Homo sapiens: one gene and its partner. The protein of the gene in region 2 purifies or fractionates together with the protein of the main gene of each other region. This does not show direct contact. Each region holds a gene or a part of one and is shown on either strand. Other genes may lie near its edges.

Region 1 (3,600 bases), on a different chromosome or scaffold from region 2:
AATATCCCACCTCTACATGCTAAAGGGAGACCCCTCATGTTCCTTCCCCCAAACCCTGGCACTCCCTTCTCCGGATATGTAGGTTGTCACCCCATAAACTACACAGTAGCTTCTCGCTTCTCGGCCCTTAACGAGCTACTTACTAACTTTAAAAGCCCCACAGAAATGAACTTAACTTGCAGGTCCTCCACCTCCACACTTGGCCCTGGGCGCCATTCCTCTGAAAATAATAGTACCAACCCTTACAAAGACTCTGCCCATGCCCCACTGTCACCAACGAATTCCTTTTCCAGAAGGAAAAGGAAACAGGTTCTTCAGGCTCCTCTTCCAACCTCTTCACCAGTGACTCCCCTCCAAGGTTCGTGGACTCTACCCCCGCAGTTTTCCTCCCCTCACTCCCGGGCCTCTGCCCACCTCACCAACTCTCCCTGCGCTCCCTGTCCCAGAGCCAAGCGGCGGCCGCTCCACTCTCCCAACTTAGAAGTTCTGCCTCTATCACCTGTTCTCACTAGAGCTTCCTCTCAGCCCAGCGGCCCACCTTTGCCCTGGCCTGCCTCTCTCCACCCCTTCGAGTCCTCCTGCCCAGGAAACACCCCCACGAGTCAGTTCCGGGGTGCCTGTCGGATTCAACTTCCCATCCGTGGGATTCCCACCCCCGGGGTCATGCTCCCCTTCTCCATCACCTGCTCCGCCCATAGCCAGATGACATCCGCCGCTGCCTCCTCCTCCATTCCCCTTCTCGGACGCCAGGTCCCCGGCCACTCACCGCCCTCCGTGCGCGCCAGCCGCCCCCTCCGGTGGGGAAGAGGGGGGCGTGCACCCCAACCCGCGCCCCCCCCCCACGACACGCACCTGTTCTTCCTCCTCTTCCCCTCGGCGGGCCGCGCCGGCGCCCCGACCCCCACCCTTGCCGCCTCCCGGCCTCCCGGAGCCCCGCACTCACCACGAGTAGGTCTGCTCCGCCATGGCGCTGCCTCTCGTGGGCTCCGCTGCAGGCTGTGGCCGGGCCCGGCGGCGGCGGGCTCGCTCGGGCCGTAGCTGAAGGCGCGGCCGGGGTCCGGTGCTTGCTTGCTTGCTCGCTCGCTGGCTCGCTGGCTGCACGGCGGGCCGGGAAGGCGGCTGGCGGGGAGAGGCCGGGCTCCGAAGCGGCCCCGCTCCCTGGGCCCCGGGGCGGGGCGGGCTCCGCTCTCGGCCTCCCTCACCCGCGGCGGCGGCGGCGGCTCCGCTGCAGCTCCAAACCCAACATGGCGGCGGCGGCGGCGCGGAGAACAAGGGGGCCCTGGGGCGGGCGAACGGCAAGACGGGCCCGCGCTCACTGCGCGCGGGGCCGCGGGAGCGCCGCGCTCGGGCGGCGGCGGCGGCGGCCGGGGGACATGGCCGGCGGGCGGAGGCGGCGGCGACTGAGGGGGGCGCTAGGCGATGAGGCGAGGCCACTCGATCACACCCGCCGAGGGGAGGAGGGGCGGGGGCGGGGGCGAGCCTTGGCCCCGCGCGGGTCACGTGCCCAAAACACGCTCACGTGATGCGCGCCCCGCCCCTCGAGCCGGGCCCATGCGCAGAGACGTCGGCTCCTGGGTTCTAGGCGGCTGCTGCTCGCACAGCCAGAGCAGTTGGGCCGCCTCCCGCTGCCTGGTGCCGCCCCCCTCCCCACGCGGAGATGTCGCCTCGGGTACCCTCTTCCGCCCCTCTCCGAGGGGCTGCTGCACCAGCCAATCGGGAACCCCGATGCGCGTCTGTTGGCTGCCACTCAGCTGTCAACCGTCAGTCAACAGTCTGCTGGCCACGGGCCCCCCAACTGTCAGTCAACCTGTCAGTCAACAGGCAGAGGGCTGCATTCCTTCGTTCGTATGTTCCTTGGTTCATTCATTCAGGTAGCAAATATTCCAGGCAGCCAACCTTTATTGCGCCCAGGCCCGGCACCAAGTCGAATACCCCACGCTTGCCTTCACAGAATCAATCAACAGATATTTGTTGGGTGCCAACCATGTGTCAACTCACTCTGCCTTCCTAGAGCTTACATTCTAAAGGAAGAGACATAGTCCAAGCCCACAAATAAGATAATTTCAGATGCTGCTAAGTTTTACAAAAACACATTTTGTAACACAAGGTGAGGGGACAGAGAGTGAGCAGAGGTGTGGGTTACTTTAGATAGGGTGGTCAAGGAAGGCCTCGCTTAGGAGGTGACATTTGAGCTGATATTGAATGATGACAGAGAGCTGGCCTTGCAAAGATCCACAGGAAAAGAGTTCCTGGCAGAGGGAACAGCAAGGGCAGAAGGCTCAGGAAACCGTCCATTTGGAGGTCTGGAAACCGGCACAGAAATAAACACGGTAGAGCTAGACCAGAGACCAACAAAGTGAATCTGGAGCTTAGATGGAGAGAGAAGAGAGAGATTAATTGAGGCCCCAGGTACTGCGGAATGCTTCCCCAGGAGTGGATGAGGCCGTCTGAAAGGGTGAGAGGCTTATCAAAGAAAAGTCATTCTTTTGGCCGGGCGCGGTGGCTCACGCCTGTAGTCCCAGCACTTTGGGAGGCCGAGGTGGGTGGATCATGAGGTCAGGAGATCGGGACCATCCTGGTTAACACGGTGAAACCCTGTCTCTACTAAAAATACAAAAAATTAGCCGGGCGTGGTGGTGGACGCCTGTAATCCCAGCTACTCAGGAGGTTGAGGCAGGAGAATGGCGTGAACCCCGGAGGCAGAGCTTGCAGTGAGCCGAGATTGCGCCACTGCACTCCAGCCTGGGCAACAGCGAGACTCTGTCTCAAAAAAAAAAAAAGAAAAAGAAAAAGAAAAAGAAAAAAAAAAAAGAAAAGGCATTCTAGAAAGAAAGAATGGCATGAAGTAAGGCCCAATTCCTGGTGAGCTTGAATCCGAGAGTGGGATGGGTGATTTGTGCTGGAGTGTTGAGAAAATATACTGAGAAGGTGCACTGAGGCCAGACTTTGAGGGCCCAGCTAAGCCTCCTTGCCAGTTACTGTGTTCATGAATAAAAATGATTAACCAGTGCAGCTTCAGAATTTAGAAACATGCCTGGGCAACAGATACACTAACCCTCCTGGACACCCCTCCACCCCCACCCTTCACCCCCCTGTTTCTCTGCAGAAGGCAAAACTCACACACCTGAAACCAACGTACTCAAGCTTCTCTGCAGCTTGCCCAACTTTAGGCCAGAATTTAGCTCTGCTCCAGTTTCCCAGGGCCTGCCCAGGCTTACAGGGAACACCACACCCTGAATCTATCTCCAAATGGATCAGTTGGCCATTGCCCATACATCTGCCGCTTGCCTGTTCCCCAAGGGAAACCCTTTAAAGAGAAAGCCAAGTACACTTTCCCTTCAGAAGCAAAGCTCTCCTTCCTTATTCCCCCACTGCCAGGTGCCAGGACCAGTTAGGTTCCAAGTGTTTCCTCCAAAGCTCTATCAGAGAGCCCTGGGAAAAGGCTCACTGATGAGATTGAGGTCCAGGCCGGGCGCGATGGCTCACGCCTGTAATCCCAGCACTTTGGGAGGCCAAGGCAGGTGGATCATGAGGTCAAGAGGTCGTGACTATCCTGGCCAACATGGTGAAACCCCATCTCTACTAAAAATACAAACATTC
Region 2 (3,945 bases):
GTTTACCATTTGTATTTTCACTTTATGATATCTTTGTAATGAAGACAATTTTAGTTTTTATATACTCAAAGGTGTCAATCTGAAATGAAACTACAGAGGTGTTTCAGCGGCATGTTCAATCTGATGTAGGATCTGACACCCCATGCCTGGTCCTCATTAAGGACTCTACTGGTGAGAAATGCAGACACACCTCATCAATTGGGCAATTGGTTACCTACTGGTACACACGTACACACACACACACACACACACACACACCTGAAAACATGTATGAATTCTCAGGAAAGGTATAATCCAAACCCTTACAGAGAAAGAGAAACATTTTCCTAACAAACATATTCTGCACAGTTGCCCTGTGCCACACCTGAGATAGCAGATTATACAGAGTGGTGTTATTTTTCCCTTTGTCCTTCCCTGTACTTTCAAACTATTTCAAACTATGCTCAGATGGTCCAGTGGTCAGACACTGGTACATAAGACAGGGAGTCCAAGAGTCTCCTACTCCACACAGCTACTCCTGTTAGTGACACAGAGGCCTCAGAGAAGCTGCAATAACAATATTTTCCTTATGTTTTGGGTCAAATGAAATCCATGGGTGTGCTGTTCCTCTGTAAGCTCTGTATGTATACAGGGGCAAAGCAAGATGAGGATCTGTTTTTCTCCTGTGTGAGTAAAGCTTCACAAAGAGATTACATATTAACCCAAGACATGTAAGTGCTCCAAAAAGAAGCCAAATCCAGGCACACAGTGCCTTTACAGAATGTGCCTGATACTTATAATTTACTGATTTAATCTGAAGTGAACATAATACTTAGTTGTTTTTTTTTTTTTTTTTTTTTTTTTTGAGTCTCATAGCCCTGTGGACCTAACTTTCCACTGCAGCCTACTAGTTTGGGCAAAAGCAGAGTCATGCCAGACCTATCATAGCCAAAACCTATCCCTGAAACATCCTGGTTAACCTCCTTCTCCTTGATGTCCTCCCATCCCCCATTTCCAATTACCTCCACCTTAAGAGGAGAACTCTGGTAGGCAAAGAACTCTACCAAAGGAACATCTGTCACACATGACTGAGTAGTAGCTTAGAGGATACCAGTTGACAGGAAAGAATGAAAAGCCTTATGATAATGCAAAAGGATTATAGACATGCACAATGTCATCTGCCAAAAAGAAACTGATATTTTGCTTACTTTTTTTTCTCTGAAAATGTTCAGATTTAAATCCATTCTCTTATACTGTTCACCAACTTCACAAAATGATGCTCAAGAGTGCCCAGAGAGTCCTCCTATCTGATTGATGTTCTTATGTCCCGGGCTTTACAGGTGCTTACAACAGAATGCTGCCCTACATCGTCATGGGTAGTCTGACTGTCCTGATTGGAATCCTCACCCTTTTTTTCCCTGAAAGTTTGGGAATGACTCTTCCAGAAACCTTAGAGCAGATGCAGAAAGTGAAATGGTAAGTAGGACTTTTAACAAAATGATACCAAAATGCCTTAGGGAGAATAAGCATGGAAGAATAGCTAGGAAGGTTCTGAAATAGAAGAGTAATAAGTAGAGACTAGCTCTATCAGATAATAAAGCATATTGTTGGCTGGGCACAGTGGCTCACGCCTGTAATCCCAGCACTTTGGGAGGCTGAGGCAGGTGGATCACCTGAGGTCAGGAATTTGAGACCAGCCTGGCCAACATAGTGAAACCTCATCTTTACTAAAAATACAAAAAATTAGCTGGGTGTGGTGGCAGTCACATGTAATCCCAGCTACTCAGGAGGCTGAGGCAGGAGAACTGCTTGACCCAGGAGGCAGAGGTTGCAGTGAGCTGAGATCACACCACTGCACTCCAGCCTGGGCAACAAGAGCAAAACTCCGTCTCAAAAAAAATAAATAAATAATAGGCCAGGCGCGGTGGCACATGCCTGTAATCCCAACACTTTGGGAGGCTGAGGCAGGCGGATCATGAGGTCAAGAGATCGAGACCATCCTGGCCAACATGGTGAAACCCTGTCTCTACTAAAAATACAAAAATTAGCTGGGCATGGTGGCACACACCTGTAGTCCCAGCTACTCAGGAGGCTGAGGTAGGAGAATTGCTTGAACCCGGGAGGTGGAGGTTGCAGTGAGCCAACATCATGCCACCGCACTCCAGACTGGGCAACAGAGCTAGACTCTGTCTCAAAAATAATAATAATAGTAATAAAGCATATTGTTGAGCAATAGTAATTAAAACAATGTGATAATGGTATAGGAATAGAAACCAATGGAATAGGATAGAGTTCAGGATAAAACCCAAGAAAATATAAAAATTCAGTATGTAATAAAAAGTAGCAAAGTCAAGGGGGAATAGTTATTCAGTAAAAGGTATTAGAACATTCAGCTAGACATTTTGAATAAATTAAAAAGTTGTCTCTTTAAAAAATGCATTGGCTGGGCATGGTGGCTCACACCTGTAATCCCAGCACTTAGGGAGATTGAGGCAGGCAGATTGCTTGAGGTCAGGAGTTCGAGAACAGTCTGTCCAACATGGTGAAACCCCATCTCTACTAAAAATACAAAAATTAGCCAGGCATGGTGGCGCACCCCTGTAATCCCAGCTCGCGGGAGGCTGAGGCAGGAGAATCGCTTGAACCAGGGTGGTGGATGTTGCAGTGAGCCGAAATCGCGCCACTACACTCCAGTCTGCGTGACAGAGCGAGACTCCGTCTCCAAAAAAAAAACACATCAAGATAAAATCCAGACAGTTAAAAAATTTAGGCCTAAAAATGTAAAATCATAAATATACCAGGAGGAAACAAACATTTTTATAACCTTAGAGAAGATCTTACTGAGCATAACATAAAATCAAAGAACCATAAAGGAACAGATTGATATATCTGATTGTACATTTTTTAAATTATTGGCAAGGCAAAAAGAAACCACCCACAAAGACAAAAGTCAATAAGCCAGGAGAAAATATTTGCTACACAAAACCTAAACATAAGGCTAATATACTTAATATACAAAAAGCTCATAGTAACCAGTGAGAAAAAGACAAACAATTCAGTAGGAAAACCAGCAAAGGACAAGAACAGACAGTTTACAGAAGAAGTCACTTCAGTGTCCAATATATACATGAAAAAAGTTATTTGTCCACATTAATAAGGAAATGCAAAAATAAAACAATTCAACATCTTTTTTTGGCTTATGAGATTGCGCAAGGGTTTTTCTTCTTGACGCAAACCAATTCTGACACCTATTGAGTGTCCTATAATGCAGTTCAATTTTGACAATACCTAAATTTAGCATCAGACTCCACAGGTGTAAAGACTCAGTCCCACAATACTGCCTTGCTTCACTTGCCACTCACAAATGTCAGGTCCCCAGGTTACCCACATTTCTCTCTGACTTTGCTACCAAGTCTGGGGTTCCAACAAATCCCCTCCTTGGGTTTGATTATTTGCTAGAATGACTCACAGCACTCAGAACACTGGCCACTAGCGGTTTCTTACAAAGGATACAAATGAACAGCCAGATGAAGAGGTACATACAGAGAGGTCTGGAAGGGTCCTGAGTGCAGAGGTTCTGTCCCTACGGAGTTAAGGTGCACTGCCCTCCTGGCATGTGGATGTGGTCACCAACTCGGAAGTTCTCCAAACCCCATCATTTAGAGGTTTTCATGGAGGTTTAGTCATGTTGGCATGATGGATTATTAAGTCTATCCCCAGCCTCTCTCCTCTCCCCAGAGGTTCCAGGCTTCTAATCCAGGCTTAGTCTTCTGGTGACCAGCCCCCACCCTGAAGCTATCTAAGGGCCCAGCCAAGGGTTGCCTCATTAGAACAAAAGAAGCTTTTATCACTCCCTATCACTCCAGAAATTATAAGAGATTTAGGATCTCTATGTTAGGAGCCAGGGACAAAGACCAGTATCTTTTTATGACACCACAGCAAACATTTAAAAGATTAGTGGTATTT

What was found. The genes of interacting proteins can lie anywhere in the genome.
Region 1: the proteins of SLC22A4 (region 2) and SPPL3 purify together in Homo sapiens (affinity purification with mass spectrometry; 2 studies listed by BioGRID and IntAct, with this or other methods). This does not show direct contact.

What each region holds. Positions count from the first base shown.
Region 1 is NC_000012.12:120,902,902-120,906,501, forward strand, and holds the start of SPPL3 (signal peptide peptidase-like 3), read right to left. Parts: upstream 1,458-3,600; 5' UTR 967-1,457; coding exon 944-966; intron 1-943.
Region 2 is NC_000005.10:132,339,246-132,343,190, forward strand, and holds part of SLC22A4 (solute carrier family 22 member 4), read left to right. Parts: intron 1-1,319; coding exon 1,320-1,455; intron 1,456-3,945.